Linked DNA regions of Homo sapiens: all the other regions are linked to region 1. Evidence: fine-mapped expression QTL. A gene starts in region 1. Each other region holds a variant in brackets. All regions are shown on one strand. Distances are from middle to middle.

The links. PIP is the estimated chance that this variant, and not a neighbour inherited with it, causes the effect.
Region 2: its variant is the best candidate, but not a certain one, in a credible set for the expression of KCNK5 in whole blood (INTERVAL, PIP 0.53).
Region 3: its variant is the best candidate, but not a certain one, in a credible set for the expression of KCNK5 in activated CD8 T cells (Schmiedel 2018, PIP 0.87).

Annotation. Positions count from the first base shown.
Region 1 is chr6:39,225,782-39,232,693 of GRCh38, reverse strand. KCNK5 (potassium two pore domain channel subfamily K member 5) reads left to right here and starts at 3,219. Exons shown (of 5, transcript NM_003740.4): 1 at 3,219-3,768. The coding sequence starts at 3,583. RefSeq lists enhancers at 1,914-2,641, 6,727-6,912 and silencers at 2,929-3,278, 3,379-3,458, 4,472-4,541.
Region 2 is chr6:39,135,996-39,142,907 of GRCh38, reverse strand. No RefSeq gene overlaps it. Among named protein-coding and RNA genes, the nearest start is that of SAYSD1, 24 kb to the right of the region's middle. RefSeq lists a silencer at 5,358-5,558. The variant A/C (reference allele first, on the strand shown) is at 3,739.
Region 3 is chr6:39,119,009-39,125,920 of GRCh38, reverse strand. No RefSeq gene overlaps it. Among named protein-coding and RNA genes, the nearest start is that of SAYSD1, 7.3 kb to the right of the region's middle. The variant TTTA/A (reference allele first, on the strand shown) is at 2,927.

The sequences.
Region 1 (6,912 bases):
TTGCAGTGGGTTGAGATTGTGCCACTGCACTCCAGCCTGGGTGACAGAGTGCGACGCCCTCTCAAAAAAAAAAAAAGGAGCCATGTCCAACCACCCATTCCATCATGGCCTGAACTAGTGTTTTGTGTTTACTTGAGAATGCCCTTGGTCAAGAGGAAGGGTCCATTTGCTTGCTTGGGAGGGGCCTAGAATTTTATTGTTGGTTTACATTCCTCAGAGCTGATTGCCTTCCAAAAGGTTGCACTCTGAAATTATTATCAACCCTGATCAATAATCATAATACTAAGAACTACACGTATGCTATTGGAATGGATTTATTTATCAGCCCTGTAGGAAAATATATATCTCACATCACCTCATTCCCATTTACCCACTTTTCCCTTTTCCAATCTTAAGGCTCGTGTTGTCTAAATATTCGATAGTTTCAGCACAGTTTACATTTTATAAAAGCCCCCACTGGCTGCTGTGCAGAGAGCAGGTGTGTGCCCCTGATCTACAGAAGGTCAAGTTGATCCAACTATCTGGCTGGGGCAGGGGAGTTGGAGAGGGGAGTGGGGAGATGGGGAGGGGAGGGGAAGTTGGGGGAGGGGAAGCACATTCAACTGGGATGGAGACAAAGGAGAGAGGCAGGAGGAGGGAGAATGAAGAGCTGGGGAAGGAGCTTTGGAAAAATACAGGAAAGCAAAGGATGCGGCGACAGAAGGAGAGGATGAGGAGTCAGTCAGCACCACATGGAGAGCAAGAAGGAAGAAGGGGACAGGAAATGCAGAAACAGAGTGGAAGGACAAAGAAACTACAACATACAGAGGCCTCGAATAAAAATCAATTCATCTCAAAGTGTTCAGCATTTTCATGAGGCTGTGAGACCGAAATAGGAAGAGGCCCTTTATTTTCTTAGGAAGAGAACACAGACCGGAGGTGGGAGAGGAATGGTAGGGAATTTTCCAAACAAAGAGAGGGCCTGTGGCCTCTCAAACTGCCCCCACCCCATGCTCACTGAAGCGTTCACACTGCAGCCCTGAACTCTTCACAAACAGGGTGAACTCCATCCAGAGAGGGGGGATCCGGAACCCATGCTTGGTTTCCATCCCAGCTGGAGGGCTGGAGAATGAGACTGCAGAGCTAGGGTTCAGGCCACAGCCTGGGGGACAGGGTAGGCAGGAGGTCAGCAAGGCTTAGAGAAGATGGATATGTTGGGTTGGGTGAGAGGCCTGGTGCTGGGAGTGGGTTGTCTACAGAGAAGCACCCCCAGGGCCTTGTCCAGGATGATCCTTGGCCAGGGGGGTCCTGAGGGGACTGGCACTGCACACCTCAGGGATGCAGTATCAGGAAATCTGGGGCTCCCCAGCTTCCTGCTCTGGTCTTCTTCTCTGGACACGCTCATGTTGCCATAAGGAGAGACAGAAACATCAGCAAAATCAGATCAATGCTTCCAACTGTATCCCTAACCCCTCCATTCCAGCCAGATTTGGAGATAGTACAGATACCCCCCTCCCCAAGTAAAGTGTCTCTTGACACCTTGGGGTTCAGGCCACAGCCTGGGTACAGGGTGGGTAGGAGGTGAGAAATGACTCCCCTTCTTCTCGATGGAAAGAAAAGGCCTTGGCCAGGGGACAGTGCTCAGGGACTCTGGCCACTCCAGTACCTGCCCCTACAGAGGCCAGAGAAGGGCAGGGCCAGCCCCTGGTACAGAGCACTGAAAGGAGGTTCCCCCTCCAACTTCTGACTGGTGCTGGTTGAAAGACTGAACAAACTAACCCACTGAGCTTTTTTCCTCACTGCAAAGTGGGTCGAATGACAGGGCCTGCTTATGATGCATGGAAGGGATTCAGTACTTCCTGGGGTTTACAAGAGCTCAGAGAATGGCAGCAAGGCGAGTTAGAAACATCCTGGGCACCTGTTTTTAACAAATTCATTCACTCCTTCATTGCACACATGGTTATTGAGTGTCTGCTATGTATGTAACAAGCACTGTGGATACATCATTACACAAGACAGATTCTCCATCTCCCCAGCAGACATTTCCGTGTGTGTGTGTGTGTGTGTGTGTGTGTGTGTGTGTCTGTGTGTGTGTGGCGGGGAGAGGGCACAATACAGAGTAAACAATAAATAAAGTTATATAATATAGCAGAGGGAATTTAGTACTAGGAAGGACATAAAGCCAACGAGGGAGATAAGGTGGCGGGGGTGGAATTTTAAATCAGCTGGAGCATATGTATGAAAGTGGGCCGGGCGCGGTGGCTCACGCCTGTAATCCCAGCACTTTGGGAGGCTGAGGCGGGCGGATCACCTGAGGTCAGGAATTGAGACCAGCCTGGCCAACACGGTGAAACCCCGTCTCTACTAAAAATACAAAAATTAGCTGGGCGTGATGGCGTGCGCCTGTAGTCCCAGCTTCTTGAGAGGCTGAGGCAGAAGAACTGCTTGAACTCGGGAGGCGGGGGTTGCAGTGAGCCGAGATAGTGCCACTGCACTCCAGCCTGGCGACAGAGTGAGACTCCGTCTGAAAGAAAAGAGGAAAGGAGAGGAAAGGAGAAGAGAAAAGAAAAGAGAAAAGAAAAAAAGAAAAGAGGCCAAGTGTTTCCCGTAGAGATACTGTGTATTGGGGGGGCGCACAGGGGTGCCACGAATTGAGCTGCCCACTCCTTCCAGATGCAGGGTTCTCACCCGGGTAGGTGAGAACGGGGTGAGGGGGAGGAATCACGCGTGGGTGGCTGGATTAGTTCCTGATGTCCTCTGATTCCCTACAGCTTCTTCAGCCCCGTTCTAACCCCCTTCCTCAGGCTTACAAGAAAGTGTGTGGAAGAGAGACACGGAGAGACTGAGCATTAGACTTTTTTGGAAGAAACATCAGTAAATGAAAATGGAATTACAATAAAAATAACAAAAGCAATAAACTCCTGACCTCAGTCACAATCATTTTAGTTAACACGCCAGTCCTAATAACAAACACGAGTCCCTGAGACCGCAACCCCTCGGGCACCGCAGGGCGTGCAGGTCTGGGCGGGCGGCGCAGCCTCCCCTGGCGGCTGACCCTGGGAGCGCGGGGAGCGCCAAGCCTCTTCTAGCGCTCACCTCGCGCTCACTCCTGCGCTCGCCGGGCTGCTTGTGCGGGGAAGGGGCGGGGCCCGCCTGGGCTCCTCCCCGGTCGGAGCCCGGAGCAAGGGGGCAGAGCGCGCCGGGCGCTGGTTAAAGAGGCGTGCGGAGGCGGGCGCGGCGCATACTGCTAGTGGCGCGCGGAGGAGCGACGCGTGGAGAAGCGGCCCACGTGTCTGCCCAGAGTCAAGTCCTGTGTTCTTCCCGCTCCTTACGCATCCGCGGTCCAGGGCGCCCTTTCAGCCCCGCTGGTGTTCGCCCACCCCGGGCCGCGTGAGTGGGGCCCCACGCAGCTCCCCGCACTCCGTGGGCCAACTTGGCCAAGCAACTCTGTCCGGGGAGCGGTGCTTGCGGGGGGTGAGTACCGGGCACTGCGCATGCGGAGCTCCAAATTCAAACAGCTGTTTTCAGAGGCTGGAGGGCGGGCGGACTGGTAGCAGCTGGGGCTAGGAGAGGCTTTCTCTAGGAGGCGGCCGCTCGGGAGCCATGGTGGACCGGGGCCCTCTGCTCACCTCGGCCATCATCTTCTACCTGGCCATCGGGGCGGCGATCTTCGAAGTGCTGGAGGAGCCACACTGGAAGGAGGCCAAGAAAAACTACTACACACAGAAGCTGCATCTGCTCAAGGAGTTCCCGTGCCTGGGTCAGGAGGGCCTGGACAAGATCCTAGAGGTCAGTCGCCGCCTGTACCCCCATATACATCTGAAGCTGGCTTGAGCTTTAGGGGGCGCTGAAAGGAAGACCCCTTCACAGCTTTGGGTGACCCTCAGTCCCTGTGGAAGGTCCAGGGGGTGATGAGAGAGCGTGTCTCATCATGGGTCAGGCTTCGAGGATCTGTCGCTCACCCGAGGGACACAGGGGTCCCCCAGGCGCGGAGACTCTTTGGAACTTAGTTTGGCCGGAGACAAATTGGAGTTGATTCCCGGGTGAACTAGGCTCCACGGTGTTTCAGTGTGGGTGTGACGGTACCTCCCTCCTTGGGAAGAGGCTGTGGGACGGATAAAGGCGTTTATCTTTCCCTGGAGACGCTCCCGGAGTCTGGGAGCCAAGCCTGGTGCCATCCCCTCGTGTCTCCACCTCCCCGCTCCAGGGCCAGTGCCACGCCTGCCAGGCTTTTCTTAAGGAACGTGAACCCGGCAGAGTGGCGGGAGGGTCCCTCAGCCCGAGCCTGGGCAAAATCTTCCGCCCCCAGCAGAGTTCCGGAGAGGAGCTGGAGGCTCTGTGGGGCCCGAACCCACGGGATGAGGGCTGGTGCCTGGAATGCTGGGGACGCGCTCAGGCTTCCGGGAAGGCTTATCTCGCGGAGACATCCTTCAAGGGCTTGGAGTAAAACTTTGTGAAAGTAGCAGGTTGCACAAACGAATAATACCCGCGTAGTCCCTTTATGATGGGGGAGGAGAGTGTGTGCGGAATTGGGGTGGGTGGGGGACTTCCCTCCGTGCTGACATTGGGAACCGCTTATTTTCTGGTGCACAGCCCGATGGGTGGCATTGACCTCACTTTGGATAAACGGGCTGCCTATCCTGGCTGAGACCTTGGGGCCCATTTGGGGACCGAGGCCCTCTACCCCAGTTTCTCGAGGGCTCAGCTTCAACCATCAACTCTTCTTGGCCTGCTCCCCCAGTGGAATGACCAGGACCTGGGTGAAAGTTCTAGATTGCAGCAGGTAGGGAGTAGGGGTAGATTGTCCAGGGTGTTACCTTGCTCTCAGGGTGAAAGATGCCAGAAAGGAGGTCTGATGAGAAGCAACGTTTAGTCTACAGCAGCACCTCAATACTTTATGCCTATCTAGTCGTCGCTCATTTTCCAGCCTCCGTTTCCCCATGTGAGAAACGGGAATGAGCCCATCCTCATTCCTTATTTCTGCCACGGACTGTTAGGTTGGAAGCATTTGGAAAACATCAAAATCTTGTCCCCAGATTGATGGACATCACACAGATAAGCATATACGTATTTGCTGGCAGCCGTGTGTGGGGAGACTTGTCCTCCAAGGGGTCCTGTAGAAGGGGAGGTTTAGTCTAGCAGGCTTAGTGTTGGATTTTAGTGGAGAGTCTCTTGCCCTGTAGCAGTTTCCCGGGTAGAGGCAGATGGGAGGTGATGGTGGGGAGGATAAGCTTCAGTAGATGGTTGGTTGGTTTACCTCCTAACAGCAAGAGTCCTGGCATGAAGAGTCTACATGGCTTCCTTCTGATGGGCGTCTACCCTGGGGGGTGTGTTGTGGGGAGGGGGTTGCTTTATGATTTCCCTTGAGGAAACAATTCCTCTAGAGAACAAGTTTTTGTTTAGTTTGTTCCAGGGCTTTGTTTAGAGGGGGAAGAGGGCAGGCAAGGATGATAAAGCCTTGAGCTGCCCTCGAAGTGTTTCCCTCTAAGCTGTTGCTCCAACACTGCAGGGGAAGGAAGGAAAGAATTCAAGGCTAAATGTGGGAAAATAAACTTCAAAACACAAGGCAAAGGGAAAGGCTGGCGGGGCATACGGCGGGGGGGGCGGGGTCCAGGGGTTAGGCAGCCGGGTGCAGCTGGTGGTCATAGCTTTGGAGGCTAGACGGCTTCTTAAGGTATTTGAACAAACAAAATGCCTCTTATTTAGCAGTCCTGTTAAATCTGTCAACATTTACCCCCCTACCAAAAAAAAGTAATGGGCAGGTAATTTTTAGAAAAAGGACTTGGGCATCAAGCCAGTCTGCTTTGGAGGCTATTATAGATAAGTTCTTGAACAAGGACAGCCCTGTCCTCATCCCCGGCCAAAGAAACTCCCAAACCAACCCCAACTGGGCGAGTCCCTTCCCGTCATAGGAAAAACCCCAAGAAATGAAAATGGACAAGTAGAAGCATTTGCTGACATCAGTTTTAATCTGCAGAAATCTGCCTTGCTCTGCTTTCTTGTGACTTGGGGTACTGCCTCAGGCCTCAGGATATTGGTTTAAGGAAAAATGAAAACTCAAAAATCTTCTTTCCCATCTGGCTGCTTGGGCATTTTCCACCTGACGCTCTGTGTTTTAGCTGGTTCTGAATCACCTTGGAATCATGAAGGAGCCCCTAGCTAGGAATTCCTGGGGTACAACCAGGGGTGGGACAAAGATTGTTGGAAGAGATGGGGTGCAGTCTGAGTTGGGGTTTCTCTTACCCTGAAAGTTGTGTGTGCTCTTTCAAATGTGTGAGAAAGGGAGTTAAGTCAACTTTCTTTAGAAATACCCCCCGAATTGTCAGATACTTCCTTCCCTCCGCTGTGGTTGAAGTGAGGTGCAGGCTGACTTTCAAGTGCTCAGTGACCCGCCAGCCTGGGACCACGTGATCGTCCTCTTTCCTGTCTTCAGAACCATCTTGAACCCTTGCTCTCAAGCAAGATCTTTGGTGACTCATTCTCCCAACCTCTTCCTAAATTGCAGACTCACACAAGGGAAGTTAACATTTACAGCACACCTACTCTGTGTTGGGCATTGTGGGTGCTATTATCCTCATTTTATGAGAGAGGGCACAGGCTGGTTTTGCCATCTGGCTCGGCCATTTACCCATCAAGCCATGTAACTTAACTTTGCCTTCCTTTCCTCATCTGCAAAATGAGTGTTTGGTGAGGCTCCAATAGAGTAGAAACATTAGGCAAGATGTCTATAAAAAGTGAACAGGTCTCCTGACCTTAGCATTTATTGAGGAAGGCAGCTTTACCTACCTGCCTTATTTCAGGTACTCTTTACAGTATGTATTCAAGTAAGCAAGCTGAAGCCCAGAGAAGATAGAATGGCCACAGGGACACCACAGGAGGCACAGCCTATGGGGCGGGACGGGGAGGGGCAATGACCAGGCAGTCTGCCCCAGG
Region 2 (6,912 bases), 90 kb after region 1:
TTCCCTGCCCCTGTCCATCATCCTGAATCTTGGCTCAGCATCACAGCACCGGCTGTGGATCTGTCTGCGGGATTCAGAGGGGCTAAGGATTTTACTAAATACCAACTGTACACAAACACACACACACATATAAATGGTGTAAATAGATATCTTTAGAGTCTGGGCACATCCCTTTGAATATCCTTCATGGTGGCAAATCTTTTCCTCTGAAAGTATATTTGATTTTTCAAAATGAATGAAAATTATTTGGAGCCTGATAGTTTAGTGGGCTGTGAATTTATTCTGCAGATAAAGTGGTAAAATAGGTAATTGGGATGTGGAAGGAATGAAAGGATAAAGGTCTGTCTGTCTGTCTGTCTGTCTGCGCGTATGCACATACGCCTTTTTTTTTTTTTTTTTTTTTTTTTGAGACAGAATCTCATTCCGTCACCAGGCTGGAGTGCAGTGGCGTGATCTCAGCTCGCTGTAACCTCTACCTCCTGGGTTCATGCAATTCTCCTGCCTCAGCCTCGTGAGTAGCTGGGACTACATGTGCGCCACCATGCCCAGTTAATTTTTGTATTTTTAGTAGAGACGGGGTTTCACCATTTTGGCCAGGATGGTCTCCATCTCTTGACCTCGTGATCTGCCTGCCTCGGCCTCCCACAGTGCTGGGATTACAGGCGTAAGCAACCACGCCTGGCCCATATGCATGTGTTTTACCACCTACCCTGAGCCCAGCATCTTGCTTGGTACTGCTTTCTGCGTCCTTGTCTTATCTGTGTCCACGCTCTGAGGTGGATATTATTATTCCCAATTTCTATAGGTAGAAATTAAGGATAAAAGAGATGAAGTTACAATCCTCCAGTAGTTCACAAAACTGAAACTGGAATCTAACTTGCCTTAAGGGAATGAGAGCCTTTTTTTGGATAAAAATAAAAAATAAAAATAAACAAAAAGAAAGAAGACATTTGTTTCCTCTAAAGCGATGAGATGATTGTCTTATGTGGTCCCAGAACTGGCTCTGCAGATAATTCTAAACCATTCTGAATATGTTTGGAGAAACGGCAGCACCACTATCATAAGAGTAAAATTTCCAAAGAGACTTCTCTAATGGGCACAAACCTCACTTGGCTGTGTCTGCATTATTTTTGTTTTAAATCAGAGAATTTCCTAGTCATGCTTTGGTTATAGTTCTTTAGAACCCAGGCTTTAGGCACTAGAATGAACCCTGGAGATCCGCTTGTTCAGCACCGTCATTCCCGGGAGGCACCCTCAGCTCCGGAGATGAGCTGAGATGAGATGAGTACCTGCTCAGGCGCCCACAATGGCTAGGGGCAGAGCCTTCACTCAACCCAGGAACTTGACAATGCAGTGCTGCCTCCCCACAGCACACCGCTTCCTCCCTCGCTGATACAACATCTTTCTAACAACAATAAACTTTTTTGGGGGGAAATTTCCATGTGTCAGACACCTAAAGTACATTGTCTTACTAAGTCTTCAAGGAAACCTAAGGGTGAGAAAGAACCATTCCCATTTCACACATAATGAAACCGAGGCCCGGAGAAATCAAACAATAGGTCCAAGTTACATAGCTAGGAAAGCGAGGGCCCAGGATTTGAACCCAGCTCTGCCCACCTCTCAGTCCTGCATGTTTAACGGTACTCAATGCTGTCTCCTTTTGTCCCAGTGCCTTCTCCCTCTTCCTCCCATGTCCCCTAGGAGCCAAGTGTACAGATTCCCAGAATCAGGCACATTCCATTCAAACGCACCCTCCCTCCATCTAGTCACTTCCCTCTTTTTGTGTTTATCAACACAAATAGCCTGTCCTCCTGGCACATTTGTTTTGCTGGAGCCCTACCTTATTCCCTAGGAGCCCTGAGGAACAATGAGCTGTTACCCAAGCCCTCCGGGACTCCGCCCCCATCCTGGACAGCTTCCTCAACTTCCCCTCCTCACACTCACCCCCCTCCCTCAGAGCCTGTGTACAAAGTGCGTCAATCACTTGTTTACTTGCTTTTCCTGCCTGGGCCTGAGGTTCTGTTGGCTATTTTTCCCTCTGGAGTTTCTCCTGAGATGAGCTTTGATCTTCAGAAGGGAAGGGCCACAGGAAGATGATGAGAGATGCTAAGAGTGGAATGAGTGACGACTCATTCCATGATAGGAAACGAAAAGGTCATCTCTTAAAGAAACCAGCAAGGATGCTGGTGAGAACTGTGCATCCCTGCCAGTGCCTGGGTGGAGACAGGGACAGAATTCAAATTCCACAAGCCAGAGGCAAATCCTCCCAGACCTTTCCATCCTTAGCTAGCAGTATAATTCATCAAGTATTAAACCAATGTGTACCCTTTCCAGAAAAAGCTAGCGCTGCAGACACCCATTGGAGGGAGATGCTTTTAGATGCATATCTTCCCTTGGACAAGGCTGCTTGTGGAGACAACACAACTGCACAGTCTGATTTGAGAGCACACATGGGAACGTCTCTGGAATACTGCCTGCAATGCCACCCCAGTAGAGGTACTTATTTGGAATTCTAAAGACTAGTTTGGACCTCAAAATCCACATTAACATAAAAAAGGATCACTGGGCAGGGACATATAACTACTAAAATAATGTAGCAGCCAGGGTCCTGGCAAGATACGAAAGACATAATGAAAAGGATTTAACTGAAAATAATGTAATAAGGGACTATTTTTGGCGGGCTGTATGGGGTTAAGAGAAACAACAAGGGATGATGAGGCAGAGGGGAGGAAATACCCTTCACTTCTCTTTCCTTCTCCCCTCTGATTTCCTGCCAGTGCCTCCCACTGGCAAAACCCAGATAGTCAAGGAACAGAGGACCGTGGGTGATGTGCATAGAAGTCAGCCCCTGGGGCAGAGAGCAAGGTGGAAAGGGCAGAGAATGGATCAGAGTGGGCAAAGAAAGAATACACAGCCACCTACCCTCTCACTAACAGCTTAGGGGATGGTTTTTAACTGCCGGTCTCAGCAGAGCTGTTTTTCATGGACTCCAGGCTATTACAATAGGATTCTAACCACTGTAAAATGTATCTATTAAACAGGTCTGAAAATCAGCATTGTGCTGCTGGTCGGGTATTTTATTGTGATTACTGCCACCCCTGATTAGGCCTCTAGAAGAGGGAGAGCTCTTGCACCCCCTTTCCTATTTCCCTCTGTTCAAAGACTACACAGTACATGGGAACATATAATCTTATTACTTCACAAGGTAGGTTTGTTTTGGTGTCTTCTTGGTATGGAAGTTTTTATTGTGAAGTGTATCGTATGTATAAAAGAGTATTTGAGATATATGTAGAGTTTAAAATATAGTACATTTAATACCTATGTATTTACTACAAAAGTTAAGAAAGTGAACACTAACCTTAGAACACTAACCTTAGAAGTCCTCCAAATGCCCCTTTCTAAATAAAACCTCCAGCTTCCTCCCCAGAGGTAAACACTGTCTTGATTTTTGTGCTCATGTTTATCTTGATTATTTTTTCTTGTTGTTGACACAAGGTCTCACTCCGTTGCCCAGCCCAGAGGGCAGTGGCATGACCGCAGCTCACTGTAGCCTCAACCTCCCAGGCTCAATCGATCCTCTCACCTCAGGCTCCCAAGTAGCTGGGACTACAGTTGCACAGCGCTACACCCAGATAACTTTAAAAAAAAATTTTATAGAGATCAGGTCTCTATAAAGTATATTGCCCAGGCTGGTCTCAAACTCCTGGGCTGCTCAAGTAATCCTCCCACCTCAGCTTA[A/C]AGGCATTAACCACCACACTTGGCCCCATCCTGATTTTCGTTATAGTTTTACCACCTAGGTATATATCTCATAACAATGTATATTAAGTAGAAGCACAAATCTAGCTGAGAATTAAAGGGTAGTGTTGCCTATTTTATAAAGGTGCCCAGGAGAGAGATAAGCTGAACAGAGTGTCTGGGTAATCTGGTTTCATCTTCCCCAAGGGTTTACAAGAGCCTCTCCTGGAGGAATAGGTAGACAAGGTCATGAGTGGGTCTTCCCTTCCCCATTTTCTCTGTTCTCTCTTTTTAGAATTTCTATTATTGCAGTATTGAAACTTCGTGACTGGTCTTCTATTCAGTTTCATCTGTTTCCTTTTAGTTTCTTTCTGTATATTTTTGCTCTTTATGAGGAGGGAGATGGAAATGAGGTGATATTTCTTCAATATTTCTTCCTTCTCAGGGTTTTTCATTTTCCTTATCTTTTTTTAATTTTTAAGAGCTTTGTAATCTCCTTAAGTATTCCTTTTTTATAGCATACTGTTCTTGTTTCATGGAATTTCTTTTACTTCTCAATGAATATTGATTATAAAATTTATTTGGGAAATAAAATTTTCCTGCATAGTTTTTGTTTCTGCCAAATTGTTTTTTCTTCCATATTAGAGCTTTTCCTTATATGTAAAACTTGACTGTATGCTCATGATAACGAATAGACAGCTAAAAAAAAAAAAAACTAATAGGAAATTCTCAGCAAGTGGGCGAGGCCTGTCAACTTAGCTTCAAAGTAGGGTTATCTGGCTGCGCTGTTTGTTTGGAGAACACCCAATATCTTTAGGTATTTATTCTCCAGATGGTTAGTTACCCAAGGAATGGTCTTACAGTATCTTGCCATGAGGGTAAGGGTCTAGATGCTAATTTACTGGGAGCCAAGTGTGGAAATGGCATGGGCATTATAATTCAGAGTCAGTTCTTTTCCAGAGCACTGTTTCTAATGAAGGGCCCAAGAATGGGAGGTGGGAAGGGCACTGTCAGTCTGTGCCTAAAAGGCTTGTTTCCACCTCATTATACATCAGAATTGCCTTTGCTGTAGTAGAAAATTGGACATCCAAATGGTGAGGTAAGTAATAACAAACAAGAATTTGCTGAGTGTCTCCCTTACTTAGCAACATAGAAGTAGATGCATGTACTTGAGCTGGTCAATATCCACTGTGGACTGCATGGTAGGCATTGGGGAATTATTGAAGGTCTGTCTCTTTTCTAGTCATTTTGCAGTTGAGTAAACAATGGCCAGAGAGATTAAATTAACTGACCCAAGGTCAGACAACTATTAAGTGGCAGAATAAGAATTCTCATCCCAGTCTATTTGATTCCAAAGCTCTTTATTATTATTTTAAATAGTATTTTTTCCAAGAAATGTATACTTAGTATAGGTATCACAGGAAATATATAAATTTTCAAATAAACTTTTAAAAAACAACTATAAGGCCACCAAAACATTGTGTAATATTCTTTCATAGGAATCCACCACAATTTATAATTTATAAAAATAATTGATCATTTATTTGATTCTCCCCTAGTTAGGTTCATTTAGATTGGTAAACCTATGCTCTTTCTACTATATGACATCAACCAAGAGCAGCAAGCATAAGTAGGAAGAGCAGGGTCCTAGGCAGGTGCCCAGGTAGAAAGCTACTGAGTAAAAGGGATTCAGATGGACATAGTTCAGCACCCTGGAGAGCTCCATGACAGTATTGCTCCATTATGGACTCAGCAGTAACACTGGCTGGGAACCCTTTAGGGTTCTGAACTGCTTTCCCAGAATGGGATGTTAAAAGAGATAATACACGGCTAAGTTTTGGGGGGTGGAGGTGGTCTCTTTGTCCCTGAAGGGATTCATCCTTACCAGTCCCCGGTTCAAAGAGCACTGTGGCTGTGGGTAGTTTTTCTCACCACTCTGCTTTTTCTCATGCTAGCCCCTCAGCTGGGAATCCCTGGCTAATTTCTGCTGATCTTTCAATGTTCCATTTCGTCACTAGTTTCTCCAAAAAGATTTCTGAGCTCCCTCTATCTTCACCCTCAATGATTTTCTCCCTTTTTCCTCTGCATCTCTCTTACTCATTATATGTGCCATATTAGATTATAATTACGTCTGTCCTCCTCCTTAGAATATGAATTCCTTGAAGCAGGGACTGAGTCTTAGCTATATTTTGTCCCAGTAAGTACTCAATAAATAATATTTAAAAATCAGCAAATGAGTGCATTTTTGTAGGCAATGAGAAGCTATTGAAGGTGGCTCTCAACCAGTGGCAGTTTTGCTCCCTGAGAAAAATTTGTTGATATCTGAAAATAGTCTTTGCCGTTACAAGTCAGCGGGTAAATGCTCCTGGAATATAATAGGTAGAGACCATGGGCCCTTGTAAATATCTGACAATATACTTTACAGTCCCCAAACAAGGAATTATCTGGCCCAAAATGTTATTCATGCTGAGGATGGGAAACACTGTTTTAGAACAATAAAATGGATTTAAACAAACTCTTCTTCAGTCAGCTTAAGTCTTTAGAAAGCAGTAAGTCTAACTGGTTCATTTTACAGATGAGTAAAACTGATTTAGGTGGTTGTGGAGCCAGCGCAAGTACTTATACATGGCACCCTTTCCACATAGTTACACTTGTCAGGCCTCTGAGCCCAAGCTAACCCATCGTATCCCCTGTGACCTGCACCTAGACGTCCAGACGGCCTGAAGCAAGTGAAGAATCACAAAAGATGTGAAAAGGCTGGTTCCTTGCCTTACGTGATGACATTCCACCATTGTGATTTGTTCCTGCCCCACCTTAACTGAGCCATTAACCTTGTGAAATTCCTTCTCCTGGCTCAGAGCCACTGAGCACCTTGTGACCCCCACTGAGCACCTTGTGACCCCCGCCCCTGCCCGTAAGAGAAAAACCCCCTTTGACTGTAATTTTCCACTACCCACCCAAATCCTATAAAACGGCCCCACCCCATCTCCCTTCGCTGACTCTCTTTTCGGACTCAGCCCACCTGCACCCAGGTGAAATAAGCAGCTTTGTTGCTCACACAAAGCCTGTTTGGTGGTCTCTCCACACGGACGCGCATAACATTTGGTGCCGAAGACCCGGGACAGGAGGACTGCTTCAGGAGATCGGTCCCCTGTCATCGCCCTCACTCCATGAGGA
Region 3 (6,912 bases), 110 kb after region 1:
GCTCTGTCTGTCCCACTGATAAGACACTTAGCAATAGTTTCTGGCATTATTTCTCATTTTGCATTCTTGTTTCATCTTCTCCATGATTTCATAAGTTTTTCTGGAACTCGAGGACCACAACTTATACCTGTTTGTCTTCCCAGAACCTTGAAACTGATCTGCACATAGAATAGACAGGATAGTGGGTTCCTGGGCTCTGCTCTGGAGTCAGACTCCCTGGGTTCAAAACCTGGTCCTGCTAGTTGCTTGCTGTGTGACATCAAACTATGGAATCTGCTCACATGCCTTCCTGAAGAGTTGTTGAGAAAATTAAAGTACATAATAATTTTCAAGTGGTCAGCACAGTGTCTGGCACACATTAATCACTCCACAAAGGCCAGATATTATTAGGAGCCCAATTTGTTGTTAATAGTGAATGACTCAACTGGTTCTCAAGGTTAAAATATATATATATGTGTGTGTATATATATATATTTGGGCCCTAAACCCTGGTGTTTAGTCAAGACTCTAGAAGGTCAATGGTTGAAGAGAAATGTAAGGCTGAAGCAGGAGCTTCCAAGGAGGTGGCTAAGCAGGCGATATTTTTCGAGTCAGGAAATATACTTCTCTGGATGTATGTACATGTATTTTAGTGAAATGGCCCATTTCTTCCAAGGACTTTATAGGACAAAAGCTTGCCTTCCTTCTGACTTTATTCCCATACAAAATCATGAGGAAGCAGGCTCTTATAAAACACACAATTCCTATGGTTTTCTTCAGGTGCATTGTCAACCTGCAAAGAGATTCTTCTCCAACTACTTTCAGTTAGTTTGGGGGAGAGTTTTGGGATGGGATTTACATATAGATCATTTTTGTTGCAAGCCTGTGAGCTTTAGGTCATCTGTTCTGCAGGCCACAGGAGGCATTTCTCTGAGTATCAGAGCTAAGCACAATGGAACTTGGACATAAGGCAAGTCAGGTGGTTAGGAAATTGTCAAAACCTAAGATCTTGGAATTTACAGGGAGTTGAGATGTAGAGGAGGAAAATGGAGAAGCTTCAGGTAATAGGATTGGGCAGACTGATGGGGACAAATAGTAGAGACTGTTGAGCTCTTTCAGAACACAAGATCCCAGTCACGGGGGGGTTACAAAAAGGCAAAGTTCAAGCCAGCAATAAGTGTCAGGAAAAGCAGTTGTAACCACAAAGCCAAGAGTAAGTGGGGGCAGAAGGGTCATGAACCATTACCTTTCATGCAAAAGATAATTATAAAGCATCAAACTATCACCAGAAATATTTAATGTCTATAGCAATGCCCATGAATTATATCATCTCATCAGCTTTCCCTCTCTGGGCCTCAGTTTCCCCATATTTGAATCTGAAGAACTCCCAGCTTGAGTTAGTGCCCCTCCTCTGTTCCCCAGACCTCTGTGTTATAACTGTCTATCAGTGAGTCTGTCTCTCTAACTATACCTTGAATTCCTAACAGTAGGACTGTATTTTATTCATGTCTGCATCCTCAAAGCCTGGTCCAGGGCCTGGCATATAACAGGTGTTCCATCAATATTTGCTGACTAAATGGTCTCTAAATTCCTTGGAGGACAGACTCATAGAATGACTGAATCAGTTATTCTAGGACTCTGACCTCTGCAGAGTTCAAGATAAAGTGAGAGCTAAAAAACCTTGCCAGCAGCAGTCCAGCAGCAGCAGTGCAAAGCAGGCTGCTTCAGTTGAAGCACTATAGCCCTCTGCTTCCCATCCTCTCTCTTAACTTCTTTATTACCATTTCCAAATATCTTCTTTGGTGACAGTCTAAAGTCCTGTTTTGCTTGCTTCAAACATCAAGGTAGGGGTTTTGTAAATGTGAAATACCAACCATCCCTCTAGTTTACTTCCCTTTTCTCAGGCAAGTCCATAGGCTTAGGTCTTGCATAGCTCTTAGATTCTCTTGGTAGAAAATCCTGAGCTAAAGATTCAAATGTAAGAAGTTTACTGGGAAAGTGATTCTAGGGAGCACTGATAGGGCAGCAGGGAAGTGAGACAGGAAAGGGAAGAAAGGTGATATAGGGTGTGTTAATGAGCTGTGGGCAACTGAGGCTCATTCCTACCGAAGACTCTTGGGAGACTCTGGGGAACACACATCAGAATCATCCCCCATAAGGAGTGAGGGAGCTAGGGTATTTATCCACCAACTCCCATCTAAAATTGGTTGAAGACTTTTTCAGGGTTGGAGAGGAATAGTCTCCCACCACTACTAATTTGCCTCATGTACTAGTTGAACACACTCCTGCAGCCAGAGAAAGCCCCCAGGTGCTTGTAGAAGCCATCAGGGCTGGGTGCAATGGCTTACATAGTGGCTGTAATCCCAGCACTCTGGGAGCCAAGGTGGGAAGATAGCTTGAGGCTAACAGTTCCAGACCAGCCCGGACAACATAGCAAAAACTAGTCTCTACAAGAAAAAAAAAAAATAGCCAGGCATGGTGATGCACACCTGTAGTCCCAGCTACTTGAGAGGTTCAGACAGAGGATTGCTTGAGCCCAGGAGTTCAAGACTGCAGTGAATTATAATCGCCAGGGCACTCTGGTCTGGGCAACAGAGCAAGACCCTGTCCCTAAAAAGAAAAAAAAAAGTGGGGGAAAAAAGCCATCATCATGTACAGCAACAGTGAGATTAAGGGGATATGGGTAGCCATACCGGTACCTTATGCTACTCATCATAGCTACAACTAAGACTTCTAGACTCAAATGCCCCAAAGTCTTCCATTCTTTCCTCCTAGTTTAGTCTACTTGGATTGAAATATGAAGCTCTCCAATTTCCCTCTACAGTACCCTGACAAGTAGACAGTCAGTCCCTGCTTGAATACTGCTAGTGTCAGGGAACTTATTGCCTCTGCAAGGCAGCACATTCTATTGCTGAAATAACTGAGATGCCAATTTTTTTTTTTTTTT[TTTA/A]AGATTCCACAGTTGTCATCTTGTAATTTCCAACTAAGTTCTACCCCTTGGAGTCCCACAGAATGATTCTCCTTCACCACAACAGCACTTTTGTGTATGTGTGTGTGCGTGCGCAACAAGGCTGTTTATTTCACCTGGATGCAGGCGGGCTGAGTCCGAAAAAGGAGTCAGCAAAGGGTGGTGGGATTATCATTTAGTTCTTGCAGGTTTGGGATAGGTGTACAAAGTACCTTCTTAAGAGTGGGGGGAGGGGAGGGGAGAATATTACAAAGTACCTTAAGGGCGGGGGAGAATATGTCTATCAGGGTGGGGCAGGAACAAATCACAATGGTGGAATGTTATCAGTTAAGGCTATTTTCACTTCTTTTGTGGATCTTCAGTTGCTTCGGGCCATCTGGATGTATACGTGCAGGTCATAGGGGATATGATGGCTTAGCTTGGGCTCAGAGGCCTGACATTCCTGTCTTCTTACATTAATAAGAAAAACAAAACAAAATGGTGGTGAAGTGTTGAGGTGGTGAAAATTTTGGGGGGATAATGGGCGATGTTTCTCAGGGCTGCTTCAAGCGGGATTAGGGGCGGCATGGGAACCTAGAGTGGGAGAGATTAAACTGAAGCAAGATTTTGGGGTAAGGGGTGATATTGTGGGGTTGTTAGAAGGAGCATTTGTTATATAGAATTATTGGTGATGGCCTGTATGCGGTTTTGTATGAATTGAGAAACTAAGCGGAAGACACAAGGTCCGAATAAGAGAAGGAGAAAAACAGGTATTAAAGGACTAAGAATTGGGAGGACCCAGGACATCCAATTAGAGAGTGCCCAAGGGGGTTCAGCATAATTATTTGCTTGGTTGGCTAGTTTTTGGGCTCTATCCTTGAGTTTTTTATGTTGTCATATACCAGGCCAGATTGATTTAGGTAAAAACAACACTCTTCATTTAAAAATATACAGAGTCTCCTTTTTTAGCAGTGAGTAAGTCGAGGCCTTGGCGATCCTGGAGGAAAGAGAAATGCAAAGCCAGCAATTGTTTGTTAAAAAAGGACTAGAAACGGCTAGGAAAGAGTGACTGAGATTGATAGTATGGTGGAGATAGCTGGGGAGAGGTAGAGGGTAGCATAAGAATGGGAACGAGAATAAGAGTATAAAACTAAGGAATAGGACTTTATCAGGGTGAAAGTATTGGAGGGTGCCCTGCCAGCAAAGATCATCTATCCACTCTAAGAGGGAGTTAAGAGTGGCAGTTTGGGGATAGCACCAGGAGATATCAGCTGTGATGGCTTGGAGAAACAGTGTAAACTGGCAGTGTAAACAAGAGCAGGGCATTTATAAGCAGTTGAGAATGGTGAATAGGAGTATGACTAGACAGAAGATAGTAGGGATGACAAGTTTTTGGGGCGCAGTCCAAGTAGTGGGGGTGACTGCGTAAAGCCCTGTTGCAAAAAGGAGGGTAAGGATGAATAGACTTAATAGAATGAAGGGATGTATTAGGCTCATGAGGGTTATTACGTTCTTCAGAAATTCGAGTGAGTTTAAGGGAAGTAGGGGAGAGTACCTGTGACTTCCAGGAGGAAGAGGAGAAATCAGGTTGGCTGTCCAATGGACACAGTTTTATTCTGGAACAGTGAACCCAATGGGGAGGGTCCTGCAGGCAGACTGCAATTGGGGTACTATGGATGACTAAGGAGGGTCTGGTCCATCGAGGTTGTAGAGTTTGAGGGGTCAGATTCTTAACAAGAACTGATCGTCCAGCTAGGGTGTCTTCATATGGCTGGGAATCTGGAGTAGGCAAGAGAAGATTAGCAGCCTGGCGAATTTCCTGTCTAGCCTGTTGGAAGACTGGAAGATAGTCGCCCAGAGGGCCACAACAGCACTTCTAACAGAGTTTCTAAAACAAACTGGTATGTTTTCACCGTGAATCTCCCTCTCTGGCCCAAATCACTCACTGCCTTTACCATTCTTACTACAATGTGGTCTTTAGACCAGTGGTTCTCAACCAGGGGCAAACTTGCCTCTTAGGAGGCATTTGGCATTATCTAGAGACATTTTTGGTTGTTACATCTAAGGGAGAAGCTACCGGCAACTAGTGGGTGGTGGCCAGGATGCTGCTAAGAATCCTACGAGACACAGGACAACCCCCACAACGATTTTCTGGCCCAAAACATCAAAAGTGCCAAGGCTGAGAAATCCTGCTCTAGACACATCATTATCCAGGCTACCCCCCTCTGCTTTATATGGTTTGTCATATAAAGCATAGTGCTCAGAACTTGGTATGTGGTACCTGCAAGGATAGGACCAAAGAGAGCATGAATACATGGGGGTATCAAGAATACATCCTTGGGCTGGGTGCAGTGGCTCATGCCTGTAATCCCAGCACTTTGGGAGGCTGAGGAAGGCAGATCACCTGAGGTGAGGAGTTCAAGACCAGCCTGGCCAACATGGCAAAACCCCATCTCTACAAAAAATATAAAAAATTAGCCAGGTGTGGCGGCTCGTGCCTGTAGTCCCAGCTACTTGGGAGGCTGAGACACGAGAATCGCTTGAACCCGAGAAGCGGAGGTTGCAGTGAGCTGAGATCGTGCCGCTGTACTCCAACCTGGGTGACAGAGTGAGACTGTCTCAAAAAAAAAAAAACTATATCCTCTCTCACTTTGAAAATGGGATTCATAGTAGCAGCTGAAACATTCCCCATATAACCCTCCTCCTACCCAGTCTGTGGTCAGGGAAAGGCTCCAAGTCCTATTGAAACAAATTGCTCCCAAGCCAATGATTAAGAAACAAAAACAATAATATAAAAACATAAATGCAAATCTAGAAGGAAGCACAGTTCCCTCTGAGCATCCCCACAATGCTTTAATCGTAATAAATTGAATCAAATTCATTTTGGTTTATTTTTTACCCTAAAGGCATAACTGCAGATCTTCTCTACCAAATTTTTGTCACCTGAATAAACGATAAATTCTCTCTCATATTTTCACCCAAGACACTCCTAAAAATATCAAACAGGACAGAGCAATGTTGATCCATTTCTTGACCCTTTTTGGGTAAGGGTGAATTGACCAGCTATGAATCCAGTTAATTGTAGATTACATTTATTTACCTGATACAAGGAAACACCAGGTCCAGATGGTTTTACTACTAAGTCCGACCAAAATATTAAAGAAACAGTTAATTCCTATTTTGTTCAAACTGTTCTAGAAAATTTGGGTGGGGGGTGTGGAAGATGGAGGCACACTTCAGCTTATTTCATAAGGCTAGCAAAATCTATCTAAAATTGAGGACAGCACATGAAAAGAAAATTATAGGAAAATCTCACTAATGAACAAAAGATGTAAAATTTCTAGAAAATTCTCAAACTGAATTTAGCTTTGAGTTTTATGTTTTATAAAGTGATTTGAGTTTTATTTATTCCATGAATGGAGGATGATTTAACAACAGAAAATCGATTACTATACCCCACCACACTAATAGATTAAAGGAGTGGGGAATCAAGAATGAGCATACAGGGACACAGGGAACTTAAAATGTTCTTCTTGGGTATTGGGTATGTATGTATTGGTTAGCATTTGCTGTGTAACATGCAACTGCAAAATTTCAGTTATGTAAAATAAGCATTTGTTTTCATACATTTTAGGGTAAGCTGGGGGTTAGCTATTTGAGGCTGTGCTCAGTTGGGCAGCTCAGCTTTAAACTGCAAGTCTCTGGGTCAGCCAGGTGACCACAACCTAGATGTCTTTCATTATTCTTGGATTAGCTGGCTAGCTGTTGCAAGTTCATCTCATGGAAATGTGGAATATTAAGAGAATTTATTTAACAGGACAAACACACTTCAAGTTCCTGCTCACGTAGTTTCTGCCATCATCCCATTTGGCCAAAGCAATCTGCATGGCTGAGTTTACAGTCAAGGAATGGGGAAGTCTACTCTGCCTTTTACGGCGTGGATACAGATAGGAATATAGAATCGGGCCAATGACTCAATTCTATAA